Regions from separate parts of the Homo sapiens genome. Here region 1 is linked to region 2. The links come from fine-mapping of genetic effects on gene expression. A gene starts in region 2. The other region holds a variant in brackets. All regions are shown on one strand. Distances are between the middles of the regions. Region 1 overlaps TMEM220-AS1 (TMEM220 antisense RNA 1). Region 2 holds the start of TMEM220-AS1 (TMEM220 antisense RNA 1).

Evidence for each region. PIP is the estimated chance that this variant, and not a neighbour inherited with it, causes the effect.
Region 1: its variant is fine-mapped to the expression of TMEM220-AS1 in whole blood (TOPMed, PIP above 0.99).

What each region holds. Positions count from the first base shown.
Region 1 is chr17:10,748,327-10,759,033 of GRCh38, forward strand. The region is part of intron 1 of TMEM220-AS1 (TMEM220 antisense RNA 1); the gene reads left to right. Among named protein-coding and RNA genes, the nearest start is that of TMEM220, 24 kb to the left of the region's middle. RefSeq lists enhancers at 332-881, 5,846-6,140. The variant G/A (reference allele first, on the strand shown) is at 3,976.
Region 2 is chr17:10,725,473-10,736,179 of GRCh38, forward strand. TMEM220-AS1 (TMEM220 antisense RNA 1) reads left to right here and starts at 4,305. Exons shown (of 4, transcript NR_073458.1): 1 at 4,305-4,428. TMEM220 (transmembrane protein 220) reads right to left here and starts at 4,551. Exons shown (of 6, transcript NM_001004313.3): 1 at 4,308-4,551; 2 at 3,559-3,588; 3 at 732-792. The coding sequence starts at 4,379. RefSeq lists enhancers at 4,003-4,589, 4,590-5,176 and silencers at 4,190-4,359, 4,370-4,609, 8,573-8,758.

The sequences.
Region 1 (10,707 bases), 23 kb after region 2:
CCATTGTTTTAAAGCCAGTCTTTACATATGTTTATGTGTGCCTATGCACAGGAAAACATTAGAGATGTGATCTGTTGGCTTATTTTACACTTTGCTTTATTTTTGCAGTGAACCTTAATTACTCTAAAATCAAGGGGGGAAATGCTATTAGAATCAAAATGATAAGTATGGTAAGCATTGTGCTGGGAGAGGTACTGGATGCTGTTAGGAGCACTTAGCAGGGACTGGCTTTAGGCAGCTGCATAACTGCAGGGAGCAGTAGAGAAGGTTCAGTGAGGCTCACTTGTGCATAGAGACCTTCCTGCCTCTGCCTGTATAGGCCCACCCTTAGCGAGGCCCTGGGGGTATCGGCTGGTCGGAGAAGCCAGGCACAGGAGCCTGGAGTCCCTGGCCTCTTCTCCAGACTGTCTGGGGCGTTGGCTCCCTGATCTGGCCGGGAGCATTTCCCCAGCTCATTCCTCTGCCTTACGGTGGAGAGCTGGTTACTGGAAGCACAAAGCCCTTTCCTTTCAGGGCTCCAGAAGCTGAACATTAAGAAACCATTGCAAATACAGTAATTGCTCAGAATGAGCATTAATGTCCTATTAAATAGAGGTGGCTGCTGTGGCTGGAATATCTAATTCAGCAGCCATTTCCTGAGAACCATGTTAATGTGATTTGAGCTAATTACCTCCTCTCTGCCTAAGCTCAGTCCAGAAATTACTGAGGCCTCTGCCCTTCAGTCTTTGGAGAAGCACAAGAATCCCTCACTCCCTTTCTCGGCAGGGGAGTTCCGGAGGTTCAGGCAGCAAGCAATCATCAATCAATCAGCGATTGGCCACTCTGTGCTTGACATTGGACTAGGTGCTGAGGAGGTGGGGACACTCATTAAATCTCATTCTGTGCCTTTGAGGCATTTGACATTTGTCTAAGAAGTCAGGACAACCGTGGCTAAGAAATGAAAGAATTGGAGAACATACAGGACAGCATGGACTCTTCATTAGTTCAGTCATTCTTGGTGGTAGAGGGCACACTGGTGGATAACACAGCTCTGGTCCCACAGTCATGGGAGCTTATGTTCTAATGAGACAGACATTGACTAAGCAATTGTGCAGTAGTTGACTAACCACAACAGTAATATGCGTGATGGATTATTACAGGATGTCATGAGAGAATAAAATGAGGAGTGGGGTGGAAACTGACCTAGCCTTTGGGGAAGGGGGTCTGAAAAAGCCTCCAAGGGAGTAGGAGACCCGAGAGTGAGCAGGAATGAGCAGAGCACAGGAGCGAAGGGGATCTCTTCACCTCCGCACTGTTTGCGGAGTATGGGGGCTGGGCACAGAGAGGAAAGGGCAGGGTGGTGCCCGGTAAAGCAGTACTGTCTCTCTGTCTTGCTGCCTGCAGCAGCATGTCGTGGTGCCCAGTGCCAGGACCTTGGAGTTGGGAGACCTGGGTTCCAGTGGCACCCTAGCTTTGTGTCCCCAGAGGAGTTACTCATGTGTTATTGAGAACACACGGTACACACCTGGGTTTCACCTCCTCAGGGGAAAACACTGGAGATTACTAACTTCCAGTGCGAAAATCCCATGATTATGTAAATTCTAGGTTCTGAGTCCTGCAGCAATGAGATGGAACCATCCTGCAAGGGTCTGTAGGGGTTGGAAGGGGAAAGAGTGTAGGGGGCCAAGTCAGACTATGGGGTCTGAGGGTATAAAGGGTGGTTCCATTCTGTGACCAGGAGCGAGTTCTCTTCCTTTCTGGGCCCTGCAGCTGCACTGTCGCAAGCCCTACAATTGGGCTTCTCTTGCGCAGCCCTCACTCCTGCAGCTGAGTTCTAGTCCAGCTAGAATTCCAGTCATGGAGACTACTTGAGTTCTTTTCCTGGGGCCTCTTGATCCCCTTGTAAATCAGAGACTGAGGACAGAGACTTGATGGCAAAGGGAAGGGGGTGAGCAGAGGATCTGGACACAATTCCACCTCTGGCCTTATTAGTAAGGTGACTGGTAGATGCTGTGAAATGCACCCAGACCCCTCTTCAGGAATGAAGGACTTACTTGCCCAGCTTCTGGGAGTGCTGCCAGAGGTGGCTTTCAGCCGTCCGCCCTGGATCACCTCACCTGAAAAAAATAGCCCTTCCCAAAGTCATGCCTCTTTCCAGGGGCAGCCTGTGATCAGGGACTGATCCAAGCCAGGGTATAAAGGCCTGGTTCCCTCTACACAACTTGAGATAACTCCAAAGGGTCAGCTCAGCTCCAAAATTCCTCTCAGGGTTGACTGAAATCTTCATTAAGACGGCATCGCAGCTCCATGTTTCCCATCTCTTCCTGGCAGTCCTGCACGCAGAGCTTTGTCTCAGGTTCTGCTTCTCTGGGAACCCAACCTGCAACCGTGCTCTTCGACAAGCCCCTTCAGCGTTTTGTGCCTCAGTTTCCTCATTTGTAAAATCGGGATAATAATGACCACACTTCAGGCTGTTGAAAGGATTTAAAAAACAAATTCCTGGTGGTGGGATCATTTATAAGGGTATTTGCGTTTCGTCATGACTTGGATAATCTTACCAGCATTGAGTGGCAATCAAAAATGTTTCCAGATGTGGCCAAATGACCCTGGGGAGGAGGGGGAGTCAGAATCACCCCTGGTGGAGAATTAGTGGTTTTAAAAAGGGAGAGGGGGGTGGGCATGGTGGCTCACTTCTGCAGTCCTAACACTTTGTGAGGCAGAGGCAGGAGGATCACTTGAGGCCAGGAGTTCAAGACCACCAGCCTGGGCAACACAGTGAGACCCCATCTCTACAAAAAATTAAAAAATTAGCTGGACGTGGTGGCTCATGCCTATAGTCCCAGCTACTAGGGAGGCCGAGGTGGGAGGACTGCTTGAACCCAGGAGGTTAAGGCTACAGTGAATCATGATCATCATGCCACTGCACTGTGGCCTGGGCAACAGAGCAAGACTCTGTCTCTTAAAAAAATATTTAAAGAAGAAAAGGGAGCGGGAAAAATCATTTATCCATTTCCCTTGGTGATTACACATCAAGGCACAAACACCACTCAACACTTCCCAGCCTCCCTGAGGCTGCGGCCTGGCCATCACTTTCTTCATTAGACAGGACTGAGCACCCACTGCTCTCTCTCCCTGGAGGGGAGGGACTGGCAGCCATTGTTTCTTTCTAGGAGAACCTGGGCTTCTAATTTCATCCCGTGCGTAAACTGTATTGGGCACTGGACAAAGCTCTCAGTTAGTACAAGGGATGGTCCAGGTGAGGGCTCATTTGATCCCATCACAAATCCCCGCAGGGTCCTCTCAGCAGCAGGGAGCAGGACTGGGCCTCTGACCCCCGGTGACTGTAGGTCCTCCTTTCCTGGATGCTCAGTGAGGTGGTTCCCTGGCAACAGCACAGCATCCTAGCAGCCCCAGGGCACATGAACCACAGACAGAGGGCAGATGAGACAAAAGAGTCTTCCGTGCTCACTGTGGGCATTGTGTCAGTGTTTACCCTGGGAAGCTCCTGGATGTGCTGTTGACCCTTCTCTCTGGAGAACTTTAGCCTGGCCCCTGCCCACCCCACTGGAGCCATTACTCAGAGCTCTGTGCTACAAAGGCCCAGAGAAAGGACCCTGGGGAGGAGGCTACATGGAGGCTACATTCATTCATTCATTCACTGATTCATTCAATAGGTATACTTTGTATCTCTACTGTGTCTATCTATTGAGCCCATCTCTGGGAATATTAAGTTGGTTGAGATATGGGTTGAATATGCTGTGCAACAGTGGGGAATTTAAAACACAGTCCTTGACCTCCAGTAGTTTTTGTTTTGTTTTGTTTTGAGACAGAGTCTCACTCAGTTGCCCAGGCTGGAGTGCAGTGGTACAATCTCGGCTCACTGCAACCTCCACCTCCCAGGTTCAAGCGATTCTCCTGCCTCAGCCTCCAGAGTAGCTGGGATTACGGTCGCCCGCCACCAAGCCCAGCTAATTTTTGTATTTTTATAGAGATGGC[G/A]TTTCACCATGTTGGCCAGGCTGGTCTTGAACTCCTGACCTCAGGTGATCCGCCCACGTCAGCCTCCCAAAGTGTTGGGATTACAGGCGTGAGCCACTGCGCCTGGCCTCCAGTAGTTTTTTATTGGGTTGGGAGAGCCATCCACTCCCAGGAAAGCTAAGGACTAATATGAATTTTCTGTAAAGCAGAAGCACGCAGGAGAAATTTCCAGGCACCTGTGATGGAGGAGGATGAAGCAAGGGAGGAGCAGCCTTTATTGTGTGCTCAGGTGTGGGAGACCCTTAGCACCTGTACAGCTTGGGAAGAAGAATGTGGAGCTCTGAGAAGTGAAGAACATGCCCCAAATATATTGCCTGTGCTGAAGACAAAGAGGGTTTGATGACACGAGGATTTGCCCCCCTTTTCTGTTAGGACCACCTGGCTGCCTCCAAACACTCTCTGACTTGCCTCCTAGTTGCTCGCCTCACGTTTTCTCCTCCTCCGCTTTTCTAGAAAATATGCTCTCTTAAGAACCAAGTCTGAAGCGAAGGCTGTACTTGAACTTCGGGCTGGCTGGACCACTCAGACCGATTGAGGTGCTCTATCTCCCTAACACCTGCACTCTAAGAACCACATAAAGGACTCGCTGGTTTGCGGCTGGGTGGGGTTGGGTGGGGCTGGGTGAGGGCGTGTGAGTCAGCTTGGATAAAGAAAATCATCCAGGAGGGATGTGTTTTGGGACACTGACTACTGACCTCTTTTCTGACCCTCTTTGTTCCAGGCAACTGTGCAGATCCCGGCACTTTGGCTGTTTCCAGGAGTCTGTGCTTTTTTCCCCAAGGGGCTGGCCAGGAAGGGCTGCCTGGGAGACAGTGGCTGCTCACTGTTGCCATTTTTCTCTCCCATGATCTCAAAGCCACCCATTAAGGGAACCATCAGCTACTTGGGCAATTTCCTTCTGTGTAGAGAGCGAATGACATTTGCACTATTTGCTCATCTAACGCACCCGACATGTCCTCCTTTCTGGTTAATTTGGGTCCCAACTAGGGAGTCCTGTACTGACATCATTCAGGCAGTTGGGGGCTCTGGCCACTGTATATCTGGCAGCACAGGTCCCCCACTCTCTTGGATAACTGCCCAGCCCAGTTATCCATTGAGGGGATGCTTCAAATGGCTGGGAAAGTTCACAGAAAAAGGTGTGAGCCGTGGTGAAGCTTGTCTTTATTAACCAGTGAGCAAAAAACATTTTAATTAAATTGCAAAGATACACATCTTTGGTTCCCTCTTGAAATCTAGCAGAAAGTATGCCAGGGAAGAAAATTTGCACAGGGAGAATATTCAAATCAGAAGTATTTTCCAGTTTAAAATATCAGCAGGGGCAGGCAAGGGCTGGGGAGAAGAACAGGAGTGGTTATCTTGGAGTCCCCTGTGAAGTCCCTCACGAAGAAAAGACTTATACAAGAATTCTTGGCTGGGCACGGTGGCTCACGCCTGTAATCTCAGCACTTTGGGAGGCCAGGGCGGGCGGATCATGAGGTCAGGAGATCGAGACCATCCTGGCTAACATGGTGAAACCCCGTCTCTACTAAACAAAATACAAAAAATTAGCTGGGCGTGATGGCGGGCGCCTGTAGTCCCAGCTACTTGGGAGGCTGAGGCAGGAGAATGGCATGAACCCAGGAGGCGGAGCTTGCAGTGTCCGAGATCAGGCCACTGCACTCCAGCCTGGGTGATAGAGTGAGACTCCGTCTCAAAGAAAGAAAGAAAAAAAAGAATTCTCACCTCCCAGGGTTATGTCTATTTGAAACTTAGAATAATTGCCTCCGTTGGCTGATTTTCCTCTGAAGGAGAAATTATAAAATTTAAGATGGGGAAGGGAGGTGTGGAGAAGGATGCTGGAGATATTCTGGCTACTGCAGTAACTGGATGGCTATCTGCTTTTCTGCAGGCCCCTAAGGTAAAAGCCTTGCTCCAAGTCCCCTTCTGACTTCTAGTCACTTCCGTGCTGCCAGCAGAGGGCGTGGGATTCTTCCTGAGGAGCCTGAGTCTCAGCTTTGCCAGGTCCTTGCTGTGTGACCTTGGGTAAGTTACATAACCTCTCTGAGCCTCAGTTTTCTCAGCCATAAAACAGAGACAATAGTCAGCCCTACATTTCAGGATTGTTGTGAGAAGTAAATAAGACTATGCAAAAGGCCTTTCTTCCCCTTCCTCCTCTTCCATCTGGGGGCCCTGCTCTTCCTTTCTCAAGCTGTCCCTCCTCCCAGCATCTTTCTGAGTCTGCGTGCACTCAGAAAGCTGGCTCCTCTTCCTCATCTACCGGTACCCTTTGGAACACCTGGGGCTACCCTTGCTCACATTGTTATCTCATTACATTCTCATCTCTTACACTGGAAAACTGACCACCTGTATAATCCACATCTGAGCCCAGAGCCAGCACATGGGAGGCCTCTTAATGTTGAATGAAATCGCTTTGCAAACCGCAAAGAGCTTCCAACAGCCCCTTAGCTGTCATCATCCAGGGAAGCATTTGTCATAGCAAAACAACCTACCTCACCAAAAAGTGAAGCGTGCCTGGGTCCAGCCTGTAGAGAGAGGCTAGGGGGAAGGAGTGGATGCAGAGCCCATTTTGTGCCACTGGGGAGAGGAGTCCCGAAAGGCCACTGACTGGGAAGCCCAGGCCTCTGCAAGCCCATGCTGTTCACTCCTTGGTTGGATATAAGTCAAGATCCTCTGAGCCTTCCTCCATCATCTTTCTGCTGTCCAACACCGCAGTATCACTAAGCCCCTCCCCTAGCTGGATAAAGGAGCTCTGCTGGGCTCTTCCTGCCTGCCGCGGGATCTTTGTGTCTCGCGTCTCTGAGATCTTGGTCCCATCACCGACTTGCTCTGTGATTTTGCAAAGGTCACTTAGTTTCTCTGAGCCTTGATTTTCTTATTTATAAAATGGAGTGCCTCAGGAATCAAAGGAAATAGAGCGAATGTCTCCCCTCTTCCCTCAGCTACAGCTCAGGCGCTCTCCACCCTGGCAGCCCAGAAGAATTACCTGGGAGCTTTAAGAACATCTGAATGCCGCCCTGCGGGTCTCCCAGTCGCCTTTCTGACTCAGCGGATCTTCAATGAGACTAGGGCATTGGCTACTTTTTTTAAAGCTCCCCAGGTGATTCATGGGTTGAGTAGGGGCTGAGAACCATTGTGGGCTGCTTGGCCAACAACAGGGCCCCTCTGTCCTGGCTGTTGTCACTCTGTCTGGCTTCACTCCACCTCCCATCCCGCAACCCTGCCTCTTAGAGGCTGCTGAACATCTTACAGTTTCCCAGAGGGCTCTCTCCCTCTCTCCCTCACTCTCCCTCCCTCCCTCTCTCCCTTTTTCTCTCTCCCTCTCTACTCCCTCCTCCTCTGTCTCTTTCTCTTCCTTCTTCTCTTTTTCCCCCTCTTCCTTTTCCTCCCTCTCTCCCTTTCTCTCTTCCTCTCTATCCTCTCCCCCTTCCTCTCTTTCTCCCTCCCTTTCTCTTCTTCTCGCCCTCTCTTTTTTCCTTTCTCCCTCCCTCTCTCTTACCCTTCCTCCTCCTCTCTCTCCCTCTCCCCTTTCTCCCTCTCTTTCTCCCTTTCTCTCTCTTCCTCTCTACCCTTTTTCTTTCTCTCTCTCTCCCTTTCTCTGTCCCCCTCCCCCCTCCTTTTCCTTTCTTCCCCCTCTTTCCCTTCCTCTCTCTCTCTCTCTCTCTCTCTGTCTCTCTCTCGGGTTTCCCTGCCTTTCTATATCACCTTGTTCTCCCTACCCAGACTGCTGTCCTCTAGGCTTAGCTGAGCCCTTCTCATCCTGGGAGCCTCGCCTGGGCCCTGTGTCTGGGGTTGGCCCCCTCCATGCTCCTCCACCCCACCTGCTGCCACCTTGAGTCTTCTCTCTGTGTCTCCTAATAGTCAATGTCTCACTGCCCTGGAGGCCCCTCTGTGGCTTAGAACCTGGCATATGGTGGGAGTTCTGAGTTTGCCAGTCCTGCCTTCCTTCCCTCCCTCTCCTTCGGCCCCCTTGGTCTCTTTCAGCAGTGTTCTCAAGCTTTAGCAAGCATCAGAGTCACCTGGAAGGCCTGTCAAAACACACATTGCTGGGCCCCACCCCCAGGGTTTCCTATTCAGTGCAGGGGAGGAGTAGATGATTTGCAATTCTAACAATTTCCCAGATGATAATGACCCACTCTGAGAGCCACTGCTTTAGAGAAGGGTGTTTCAATCCAGGCACTATGGACATGCTGGGCTGGATAATTCCTTGTTGTGTGCCCTGTCCTGTGCACTGTAGGATGTTGGGCAGCATCCCTGGCCTCTACCCACCAGATGCCAGTAGTAACCCTCCTCCACATGCCACAACCAGAAATGTCTCCAAACCTGGCCAGATATCTCCTATGGGGGCAAAATCACCCCAACATTGAGAACCACTGCTCTAGAACTCTTTGTCCTGGGGGTGGAGTGGACTCTGTGGGGACTTGGCAAGGCCAAGTTCTAAATTACTGTCCTCAAGCCAAATCAGGCCAGCCACCTGTTTTTATAAATAAGGGCTCACTGGAACACACAGCCCCACCCATTCATTGTCATCTTCTTTCTGCTGCTTTCTTGCTACAAGGGTGGAACTGAGTAGTTGCGACAGAGGCCATCTGGTCTGCAAAGTCTGAGACATTCACTATCTGGCTCTTTTCAGAAAAAGTCTACCGACCCCTTTCAGACCCTGAAGGGGTCTGGTAGAATGTGATGTGGTAGAAGGACCGGGGCAGGTGGGCCCACCCACTCTCTTCCATCCAAAGGAAGGGTAGTCCTCCAGGCTGAAGCTAAATAAAGGGCGTCTTCTATCCCCAGGAGTTTCCTATGCTGGGAAGGGGGTTGGGGGTGGCATTGGGCCCGGCAGCCTGGGGCCAGGCTGGGATTTTCCACCACTGCCTGGTTCACGGCCATGTGGTCACCTCCCTTTGACCAGACCTGGGCTCTGCTTATCTACAGGGTAAACAAGAGCTCCGCACACAGCCCCAGGGAGAAGGAACCAAGCGGGTAGATTCTGAGGCAGAGTGGAAGTGTACATAGCATTTGGGTCTGATATGTCAAGGGGAGGACTGGGGAAGAGGGACGTTGGGCTGGTTCTTTCATTCATTTGACATTTATGGAGCATCTGCTGAACCCAAGGCACCATGTAAAAGGCACAGTGAACAAGATACTGTTCTTGTCCTCTTGGATTTTCAGAGTTTGGGGAAAACAAGCAAGGAAGGGATAATTACCCTTGGGGAAGCACAGGGGTGACACAGAGGAGGCTCTAACCCAGTCCTGCTGGTGTGGTTTGAGGGGGCTTTGAAGACAAGACATTCAATACCTATTTTTGAGTCACAAGTCTACTCTGTTCCCCTTCCTTTAATGGGACAGCTTTTAAGCCCCCCAGATTCCTTCCTAAGTGCTCCAGCTATGTATCAGCTCAAGTCTGTGCCCTGATTGTCATACCTCCTTGAGCTAAGCCTCTGCCCCCATCAAGGAGGCCTCAGCTGGCCCCACCCCGTTTCTCTTGTCCAGAGCACGAGGAATGCATGGCAGGCTGTTTGCAGCAACTGAGTAGTCTAGCAAGGGTGCCTCTTCTGGGACATTGCTCATGCCTGTCCCCTCTGCCTGGTTACTGTCCTCCTCCTATCTCCTGGCCCATCTCAATCCAAATCCCACCTTGACTTTTTCACATCCACACAAATGCTCCCTCATCTGTGAAGGGGGATCATAGATTGCAGTTGACTGTGGATGACAGTTGTGCGTGTGCGTGGTTTCAGAACCATGGAGTATTCATCTCTGTACTCTTTATAGCCAAATTTAGCACCACGGTGCTTCCCTGGAAGTTCACAGTAAGGATTTTCTGAGTGAGCCAATGAATAAACGGCATCCTAAGGACTTAAGGGAGATGGCAATGTTGTCTGGTTCTAATTCTTTACACCTGTCCAGCACCAAATAGTTGCAGGGCACTTCGAAACTTGAGCTCGTTAATCACCACCCAGAGGCACAAGGTCAACAGAGTGGGCGTTGCTTACCAATCAGGGTTTTTCACTAGTCCGGGCAATAAGCAAATGGCTTTTTTTGTTTTTGTTTGTTTTGTTTTGTTTTTTTGGTGGTAAGAAAATGGCTTTGGCTAAATTAATCAAAAAGGACAGGTATGGGAAGGGCACAGAGAAGCTCACAGATTTGTGACCCTGACCAATGAAAGAAATTTATTTTACATTGCAACTGATTTTACAGTACACTTATTTATATAACAGAAGTAACATTTAGAAGAATCAGTACTGACCTGAGGCCAAGTGTGGTGGCTTATGCCTGTAATCTAAGCACTTTGGGAGGCTGAGGCGGGAGGATTGCTTGAGCCCAGGAGTTCAAGACCAGCCTGGGCAATATGGTGAAACCCCATCTCTACAAAAAATACAAAAATTAGCTGGGTGTGATGGTGTGTACCTGTAATACCAGCTACTGGGGAGGCTGAGGTGGGAGGATCGCTTGAGCTTGGGAGGTCGAGGCTACAGTCAGCTGTGATGGTGACATTGCACAGCCTGGGTAATGGAGTGAGACCGTCTCAAAACAAACAAATAAACAAAAACTGACCTGAGTTTAAGTTTATATGCTGTATCACTTTTAAAACCTGATGGCCAAGGACCCAGTACACTGATTTCATGTTACCCATAGAGGGTCACAATCTGTGTGTAAAATATTGGTTTAAAGGATAAAGCCAAACTCCTTTGGAATGGTATC
Region 2 (10,707 bases):
GTGATTTGGATCAGCACAAACGGACAAGCAATCAGAGCCAGCAACTGCATTCTGAGACTTTGGTAGAGTGAAGAAACACAGTCCATATTCCACTGGACGTGGCATCGTGAAGATGTGAATGGGGGGCTGCAGGGCCACTGTGTGGAGCCCAAGAGTGAAGTTAGCATGACAGATGGTGGAACTGAGAGGTGGAGAGAAGGTAAAGTTCCGAGTCCACCAGTCTGAAGCCAGCACCACCCTTCACCTTTTCAGTAAACTGTACCAATACCTTTTCTTCTCAGCTCATAGCACATTTGAGTTATTTTCTAGCTTGTATCTAAAGGAGCCCTAACTGATCTACCTTAAAGATGCAGACGGAGTTCTAGCTGCCTATACAAGGAGCCCAGGCATCTAGGGAACTAGAATTTTCCCCACTAAGGTGGGACTCATTAGTCTTTATTCTAAGGCCCCTGAGAACATTCGAGCCCCACTAGGAGAAACTGTTTTAAAGAAAGTGAAGAAGAATCTGTCCTCTCACTTCTATAAAACAGAAGACGCTGTTTTATAGCAGATCCTTCTGACGTTTTCCTGAAGATGGGTAAGGATGATTAGAATTAGCCCCTTTTATTATCAGAAATGAGAAGAAAGGCCTAGAGAGCCCCGTTTTACTCCTGGGAGTTGGGCAGATAGACCCTCATTATTATGAGGAAATCTGATTTGCTGTCTCTCCATTTAGAATGCAAGGCTTATACCTGTGACTTCAGGGTTAAGTCCAACAAGCAGGGTCAGTACTGCAGGGATTGTGTACACCACCTGTTAGCAAAAAGGGAGGAAATTACATGAGTTAAGATGTATGCCCAATATATGAGATGTTCAGAGATACAGGAAGTAAAGAAAGATGAGATCAGTGGCTGCTGTGCCCCATGATTTGCCTCTAAGTTTCAATGGTGATTGAGAAAGTGGTAGATTCTCCTTTTGTGGCACTTAGCACGTCTGCCTGCAATTTTATCTACCTTCCTCCTAGACTATAGGCTATTCCAGAAGCTCATTTATCTTTGAGCTCTAACACTGAGCACAGGGTTTTGGTCTTAAGACACACTAACTTTCCAGTCGCTCCCAAGCAACTTTCATGCCCAAATGGCCTTTCCCCACTTGCATAAAAGAAAATGTTCTTTGAAAAGTAGGGCAGGAGCAGCCACGATGCTAGATGGCCCTGCTGGCTTTGGACCCAATGGACCATCCAGGCCAGTACTGCATCTCTGTGAGACCACAGAAAGTTTTCTAATAATGCATACACAATCAGCTGTGCCCAGTAATAAGGTCAGGCTCTTCATTTTGGAACTGCTGATAAGTGTTTGGAAATGAGAAGACTAGCCCTAAAGAGGCCCTATTCCTAAGCCTTGTTCATAACAAGCAGGCTCTAGCCAAACTTACTATTGTGTGTGTTGTTGGCAGGGAATAAGTAGGGAGGGTGGGTTTATAAGAAGGATGGGGACTTTCCAAACAATGTAGCTGTCTAATCACATCAATTTCTGTGCTTATATCAGAAGATGTTAAGGCAGGTGCCAGGGGTCCATGTGGGAGGTAGTGGAGGGCTGAACTGTGAATGAGGGAGGATGTCTATGGGGACATGGGGTCTATTCCTCCTATTATATCGTCTGAGCATGAATGAAAGGTAAAATGTGCAGGTACTATAGAGATAAGCAATTAGACCTCGATTGTTTAATTAATTTTTTGGAGATGGGGGGGGTCTCGCTATGTTGCACAGGCTGGCCTCGAACTCCTGGGCTCAAGTGAGCCTCCTGCCTCAGCCTCTTGAGTAACTGGGACTACGGATGCCTGCCACCATGCCCGACTCAAATTTATTTTGTGTTTTGAGGGGCTCTCCAAGGCAGTGGTAAGGAACAGAGAGATGATAAAGATGACTGAGATTCTGAACAAGAATGACTCAGAGAATGATTCTGCTGATAACAGAAATGGGTGAGTCAGGATAAGTAGATTTTGGAGGGAAAGATGCTAGGTAGGTCCTTGGGCATATCTGAGGAGCAGTGTGACATGCAGGTGAATATACGCAGCAGTCTTTTGGAAATTCACCATTAAGCTGGATGTCTGAGACTTGTCTGCAGGGAAATAATATTTGGAATTCAAGATACGGACCAGGGTGCCAAGGCAAAGGCAGTTTGATTTGATTCAGAGGCATACTGATCTGGATAGTAAATATCAGAATGTGGTTTTACTGCACTAAAAAAACAAAACCTGGATAGAATTTCATGTTATAATTCCAGATACCATCATCCTTGTTGCTCCTCTGTCAATATTATTCTAAAGCTTAAGAGTCATCTCCTTGGTGTACTGTACAGTCTTGTGTATCTATATTGAGAGAAACTGGGCAAAATTCAGATATTTTGGAAGATAAAAGATATTTAGAGCCGGGCGCGGTGACTCATGTCTGTAATCCCAGCACTTTGGGAGGCTGAGGCAGGTGGATCACCTGAGGTCGAGAGTTCAAGACCAGCTTGACCAACATGGAGAAACCCTGTCTCTACTAAAAATACAAAATTAGCTGGGTGTGGTGGCGCATGCCTGTAATCCCAGTTACTTGGGACACTGAGGCAGAAGAATCACTCAAACCTGGGAGGTAGAGGTTGCGGTGAGCCTAGATTGCGCCATTGCACTCCAGCCTGGGCAACAAGAGCAAAACTCCGTCTCAAAAAGAAAAAAAAAAAAAGATATTTAGAAGATGTATGGAACAATGGCCCCCTCCTCCAAATGGTTCAAATCAGAGCCTTGCTTATATGAAGACTGTAGGTTTTACAGGATTTAATACTTTTCTTTGCTTTTTTTTTTTCTTTTTTTTCTTTGCTTTTTTTTTTTTGAGATGGAGTCTCACTCTGTCGCCCAGACTGGAGTGCAGTGGCACGATCTCAGCACACTGCAACTTCTGCCTCCTGGGTTCCAGCGAGTCTCCTGCTTCAGCTTCCCTAGTAGCTGGGGACTACAGGCGCATGCCACCACGCCTGGCTAATTTTTGTATTTTTTGGTGGAGACGGGGTTTCACCATGTTGCTCAGGCTGATCTAGAACTCCTGACCTCAAGTGATCCACCCGCCTTGGCCTCCCAGAGTGCTGAGATTGCAGGCGTGAGCCACCTTGCCCAGCCAGGAGTTAATACTTTCTAGAAATATAAGTCACTGAATTAGCAGAACCTCAGAACTTAAGCCTGTTATTTTCCGGTCAAAGGTTTGCATTGAGTGTCTGGCTAGAAACTCATAAGGAATTGTTCAACTGATCTTGAGAGGCCTACTCTAGGTCCTCAAGAAAGTCCTCAGTTGGGCCATCTAACCAAAGGGAATACTGCAGAAAGACCTGTTTCCAGAAAGTTCGAAATTCACACACACATTACATTAGAACTCTGATCCTGCCTATTAATATTTTAGGAAAAAGCGCTTCCCAAGGGTTTGATTTTTAAGTTTCTCAGAAAATTAAGCAGGGAGGAGGGGTAAAGACATAAAACCGTGTGTTTTGTGCCGTTCCCCAATTCTTCCAAACGGAGGAAAGCCTGGAAGCGGCTCATACTCACCACCCACACCTCTGCATCTGGGTCATTTACCTGGAACGCCAGAATACCAAGGTGTTAGCAGACATCCTGTGCTGTTCCATTCCTTTTAAATTCATTTAAGCACATTTTTTATTAATTTGTTAAGTGCCAGACACTGCAATAGGCATCGAGGGTACAAAATCTGAACAGGATATAGTCCAGATGAGGACGGGTGAAGGGGTTTCTGGCTGACACAACAGATGTTTTTAACAGGCAGCCACACATTTTTGAAAAGCCTTCACGGGAGCTCTGGAGAGGACTCGCCAACCCAGAACGGGTATTTTAAGGGCCCTCCACCCCCACCAGTCTCAAGAAATGAGGGAAATGATTATGAAGGGGGTCCCCAAGCCGACTAAAAAGTTTAATGATGCTATAAAGGGTTTTGGTCGGCTTCGTCTCCTAGGCCCTGAGATATGTTCAGTGTCGTCCGCGGGCCGGACGTTAACGCAGGAGCCAGGGCCGCTTCTTCTGAGGTCCCCTGGGAAGTTCCACGCGCGGAACCAGCCCCTTCCAGGGTGTGAGCCCTGGTATGGGACTCGCTTCCATGAACACATCCGCGTCTCTTAGACGGGGGAGAAAGTGGGGGCTCCCCAAGCAGAAAGCCCAAGTCCCGTCCTCCCCACTAACTGTGCGCCCCTGCGACTCTGCCCGCTAGTCAGTTACACGGCCCGCTAGGCCAGGGGGCGGAGCTGGGAGCCGGGCGGGTCCCCCTCCCACCGCGGCCGCCTGACCTGCACCAAGGCCGCCAGCGCGAAGAAGGCGGCCATGAGTCCGTTGCAGGCCCGCCACAGCGCTGGCGCCATGGCTCGGAGAACACGGCGCGGGGCGGTGAGTCCTGCCACGTGCGGGGCGGTGAGTCCTGCCACGTACGGTCCGCCTTCCTCCTTGCGCGGAGGGACCGAGACCCCCGCCTCGGTTTCGGTGCCTTGGGGACACTGCCGTGGCCGTCGCTCCGCCCGGGGGCGGGGAGCGAAGGGCGTGGGTGTAGCCCCCACTCAGCGACCCATTCAGCCCGCCCCGAACGCCGCGGGGTGTAGGCGGCGCCGTCCTGGTTTCGCGGATGGGAAAGCGAGTCCCTCAGGGAGCGCAGGTCTCGGTGGTGGACGGAAGTCGAATTTGAACCCGTATAGGTTCAACTCCAAACCCTGTTTTCACTAAAGCTACCTTCCTCACAAAAAAAAAAAAAAAGAAGAAAGAAAAAAAAGAAGGAAAAAAGGAAGGAAGGCAGGCGGGAGGGGAGAGAGGAAGAAAGAGAAAGAAAGAAAAAGAAAGAAGGAAAGAAAGGGCTGGGCGCAGTGGCTCACGCCTGTAATCCCAGCACTGTGGGAGGCCGAGGTGGGCGGATCACCTGAGGTCAGGAGTTCGAAAGCAGCCTGGCCAACATGGTGAAACCCCGTATCTCTACTAAAAATACGAAAAAATTAGTCGGGCGTGGTGGCGGGAGCCTGTAATCCCAGCTACTCAGGAGGCTGAGGCAGGAGAATTGCTTGAACCCGGGCGGCGGAGGTTGCAGTGAGCCCAGATTGTGCCACTGCACTCCAGCCTGGGCAACAAAGCGAGACTCCTCAAAAAAAAAAGGATAAAAATTGTTTTTACAAAAATAAGAAAGAGAAAGAAAAAGAGATGTGTGTGTGTGTGTGTGTGTGTGTGTGTGTGTGTGTGTGTGTGTTCTGTTTAGTATTTATGCATTTCCTTCCAAAGCTCAGGAACTTTCAAATCCCTGTAAGCATTATGGTAATTTCTAGAGTGACGACAGTTATATTAACATCTTATACGGCTCACAGCTTTTCGGCAGACAGGCTCATTTATCTTCATGGGCTTTTATTATAAAAGATATTTACATATTATACATATTTACAATTCTCTCCCACCACCAAAACCAACAAAATTTCCAAAATTGCTCATGAATTTCTTATGAACCGAAGACACTGAAATATTCACTGTTCTCCCCTAGTCTGTCTGGTCTTTTTCTGTTTTGTAATTCGCCCTTCTGCTTAGTTCCTCCCCGGGCTCATTTACACATCCATAGGCCTCATTTCTGCTGTTCTAAAGAGTCTTTATCGCTTCAAATCAGGAGCTTCTGTGCCTGTCCTCTTTTCCTTTGAGCTAAATCTCCTAAAACTGTCTAGTTTTTTTTTTCTTTCCCTCTCAGTTTCATTCTTTTCACGAAACACTTATTTCAAGAACGTTGTCTGCTCTGTGCCTGGTGCTGGGACCGTGAAGGTCCCGTGCCGGGACTAGGCAGGGAGCCTGGCGGCTGGCGGGGGTGGGCACCCGTGTTTGCAGAGGTGGGGTGGGGACAGCGGGGACCAGCACTGGGTGGAGTTCCACAGCTAAATCAGCCCTGGGATTGGAAACAAGCGAAGACTATTCTCACTGTGCTTTTCCTTACATAAAAGAAAAAAATGAGAGCGAGAGTGCTAGGGGCTGACTTGCATTCCCCCTGCACCCCCAATTCATATGCTGAAGCCCTAACCCCCAGTGCCTCAAAATGGGACTGCATTTGCAGACAGGGACTTGACAGAGATGATTAAGTTAAAATGAGGTTATAGGGTGGACCCTAATCCAATATGACTAGTGTCCTGATACGAAGAGGGGACAGTTACAGAGGGAAGACCACATGGGCACACAGGGAGAAGACGGCCGTCTGCAAGCCAAGGGGAGAGGCCTCATGAGAAACCAACCCTACCAACATCCTGAATTTGGACTTCCAGCCTCCAGAACTGTGAGAAAATAAATTTCCGTTGTTTAAGCCACCTAGACTGTGGTACTTTGTTGGGACAGTCCTAGCAAATTAATACAGGGAATGATTATAATACCCACAAGGAAACAATGGCATGGAAGTGCTTTTAAGCTCTTGAATGCCATACAACCACCATGAAGTTTTATAGTTTTCACTGTTGTCTGGGACTTTCTTTTTTTATTTCTATTTTTTTGAGACAAAGTCTTGCTCTGTTGCCCAGGCTGGAGTGCAGTGGCACGATCTCAGCTCACTGCAACCTCTGCCTCCTGGGTTCAAGTGATTCTCCTGCCTCAGCCTCCAGAGTAGCTGGGACTACAGGCGCCCACCACCATGCTGGGCTAATTTTTGTATTTTTTTTAGTAGAGATGGAGTTTCACCATATTGGCCAGGCTGGTCTCGAATTCCTGACCTCATGATCTGCCTGCCTCGGCCTCCCACAGTGCTGGGATTACAGGCATGAGCCACTGCACCCGGCTGGGACTTTCAAAGTCACCTTAGTGAGCGTCTGTTGGTTTTGCCTTTGCAGGGTTCAGTCCCCTTTCTTCGAGGATCAGTGTCTTTAGTACTGTGGATTACCACATGCACTATGGGTGGATGTGGACTACAGGGTTGACCGTGCTCCCCTCCTTTTGGGGATAGGCAGGTGACTTTGGCCTGCCAGCTGACATATCCCATTCTGTTGACCACTGTGATTGGGTCTAGGATGGGTATAGGATCCAAATTGCCCAGATTCAATCCTAGGACCTATATGGGACTTAGGTTGTCAGTAAAGGACAACCTCAGTTGAACTGAATTTTGGATCATCAATGATGTGTTCCAAATATTTGCTAAATCTGGCAATCCTACTCACACTATTAAAGAGAAGCTTTCTTTGTGATGAATGTGTAGAGCTGGTAGAATGTGAGCCTGGAGCTGTCAGGAGAAAGCCTCACAGGGAGAAAGGCTTTCTGCAGGTGAAGTTTAAAAGCCTGGATCCAGCCATGCCTGAAAATGGAAGAATCTCACAACCAACAGAGTCTCTTCTTTACATAAGCCCGTGTGAATTGGGTTTTTGTAATTTGCAACAAAGAATGATGACTTGTAAAGTCATGATTCAATAGTTAAGGCAATGTGTGAAATCCTTGCAAACCTCCTGCTATAGGTTTGTCCAGGCTTTGCAGAGACACGGAAGAGAAGGCTTAGTCTGAAAAGTAATGAAAAATACGTTTAAATGAATCCAATATCTCAGACAGCTCTGCTTGAAGAGTAATTTCATTTCCCTTTTTAGCAAAAGGCTATGATACAATACTGCAGAGAAGATGAGGTTTTAAAGGCAGTAGGGTCTTGTCAAAGCTGGCTTCCCTCTGCAGAAAGGGCAGCACAAAGGACCCTTCATCCTGCTGGACACTCCCTGGCTGCCCAGTCAGTGACAGCATCATAAAAGCAATTGAGCCACAGGAGTGAGGTGAGCTGGACTCACTTCCCCGCTGGAATCCGAGAATGGCTGGACATCTGCCCTCTGAGAACTTGGAAATAGAGGTGCTTGCTTATTCCCTGAGAGTAGGGTTGTTAATCCAATGCTAAGAGTTGGAGCAGAGACAGGAAGCTCATATAAAGACACAAATGGCCTCCCAGGGTCACAGGATTGAGAGAGAGAAAATGAATGCATGAAAGTACGTAAAAGAAGAATGTCAGCAAAGGAGGATTGATGGGCTTGGAGGCTTCAAGTTAGGTCATCTGAAAGGCAAGCGTAGACCAAGTCCATCCTCACACAGACTGGAGAGAGTGCTTTGCTCCACCAGATGTGGACACTCACATTTCTTGGTCGGGCCAACCTCTTTGGGGCTTATGTGGGTTGAAAATTTCACAGGCTCAACCCTCCCCTTGCTGTGATTCCAGAAGGCCAATTTTGGAGACTTTGGCTTCCCACCTAGCTGGCCTACAGAGTGGAGAACATGTGGCTCTCTGAGCCAGGTGCATTTCAAAGTGTGTATCAATGGAATGCCCATGCCATTCTCTTTTATAGACTTGTTTTCCTTTTAGTAGTCTCCATTATCTGTCCTTCCAGGTGTGGTCAGCTACTCCGGAATGTGGCAGGGGTGGAGGCCGGACAAAGTCTGAAACAGGGTCATCACCAGTGAGTGGCTCCTGCCTGTGCTCTATGTCCAGAGTGTGTGTGTGCTGGTGATGCTCCCAAGGTGACATATTGGGAACAAGGATTACAAGGATCAGAAACTGCTGCCCATGCCGTCTACCTCCCTCTGTCCAGCACACCAGATCAGCAAAGGCCAAGCCATGCTGTCTCCAGGCTCTGCTGATTCCATGTGAATGAAGTGTTGGGGCAGGAAAGGGTTGGAACAGAACAGTGGAGGAATTCTACTAGGAGCAGTGGACGAATTCTACTAGGAGCTAGACAGCCTTCTGCTAAAATATTTGAAATCAGAAAAGCACCTCGCCACGGCAAGGATTGATTTGCTTCTACAAAACCCATCTAGTCTCTATGAAGGACTTGGGTTTCTACTGTTAGCAAAATATAGCCCGTGTTATGAAAGTCTTAAAGCTTACGCATATTGATGGACAATGAAAAACACTTGGCTTGAATAATGTTCCTCAAATATCCCCTTATGCCACTGAAAGGAGAATATGGTTAAATGAACCCTCTGCGTGTATTTATATCCACCCTATTCATTGGCATGAAACACTCAGTGAGCCATTTATTCTATCCATTTATTCTGTCCATTTATTCAAGACTTCCTACGTGTCAGGCACTATGCTAATAACTGAGGATGTGACTGTGACCTCACGGGACACGGTGTTTGCCCTTGTAGAGCTTACAGGCCAAACAATAATTACACGAATAGGTAGGGGTTCCAGCCAACAATGGTGGTGATGCTGAGAAGGAGAAGTGAGGCTGCTATGGGAATGTGTGAAACCAGAGAATCTGACCTCTTCCCAGGGGTTCCAGAAACCTCCTGAGGAGGTGATTTTCAGGTGTGCCCTGAAAGATGAATGGGTGAGGACAGGTGAAGACTTTATGGACCAGTGCTTAAAGCCGAGAGAGAAGTGCTTATGAGAAGACCAAATCCTGAAGGTCTTCAGGGCCTGGCAAAGAATGAGAGTACAAGTAGACATAGATGAGGCTAGCACAATGCAGGTAAAGAGTTTGGTTTTATCCTGGCTGGGTGTGGTGGCTCACGCTTGTAATCCCAGCACTTTGGGAGGCCGAGGCAGATGGATCATCTGAGGTCAGGAGTTCAAGACCAGCCTGACCAACATGGTGAAACCCCATCTCTACTAAAAATACAAAATTAGCCAGGCACAGTGGCGCATGCCTATAGTCCCAGCTACTCAGGAGGCTGAGGCAGGAGAATCACCTGAACCCAAGAGGCGGAGGTTGCAGTGAGCCGAGATCACGCCATTGCACTCCAGCCTGGGCAACAGAGTGAAACTCCATCTCAAAAAAAAAAAAAAAAGTTTGGTTTTATCCCAAGTGTGCTGAAGAGCCCCTGGAGCACTGAGTGGGGAGAGCATGATGGGAGGTGTGCTTGGGCTGCCCCGTGGAGGAGGATGCACTGGGGAGAGCCCAGAGAAGAAGCAGAGACTGGCCATGAGGTGCTTGCAGTAGGCCAGGAGAGAGATGATGCTGGCCAGGGCTAACAGGGTAGCAGTGGCCATGGAGGGAAAGAAGCACGAATGAGTGACATTGGGGAGATAAAGTCAATCAGACTGTATGCAGGGAATAAAAAAATGCCTCCACTCCTTATGACAAAGTTAAGTTTTCAAGGCTGGGTGTGGTGGCTCACACCTGTAATCCCAGTACTTTGGGTGGTCAAAGTGAGAGGATCACTTGAGCCCAGGAGTTCAAGACATCCTGGGCAACAGAGCAAGACTCCATCTCTACAAAAAAATTTTAAAAAATTAGCTGGGTATGGTGGCATGTGCCTGTGGTCATAGCTTCTTGGGAGGCTGAGGCGGGAGGATTGCTTGAGTCCAGGAGCTCGAGGATGCAGTGAGCTGTGATTTGCACCACTGCATTCCAGCCTGGGTGACAGAGCAAGACCCCATTGAAAAAAAAAAAGGACTTTCAAAATCATACATGGCAGATTACACAATAAATAAAAATAATTGATAGAAAGTACTTAAAAAAACAAGTTTTTGATTCTGCATGGCTGAGAACAGACTGCAGAAGGTAGGTGAGCTCTTCAAGGGAATGGCAAAGCACTTCCCAGTGTTGCCTTTGCTCCGTCCAGAATCGCTGAGTGTCAGCCTGTGCTAGCACCTACCTGGCCTCAATTAGAGTCGCCTGATCTCCTTAGGTGGGACTGTGGATGCTCTTCTCCTTATACTTTCACTTTTTTTTTCCCTTTATGGAAATTCTTAGTTTTTTTTGGGTGTGTGGGTTTTTTTGT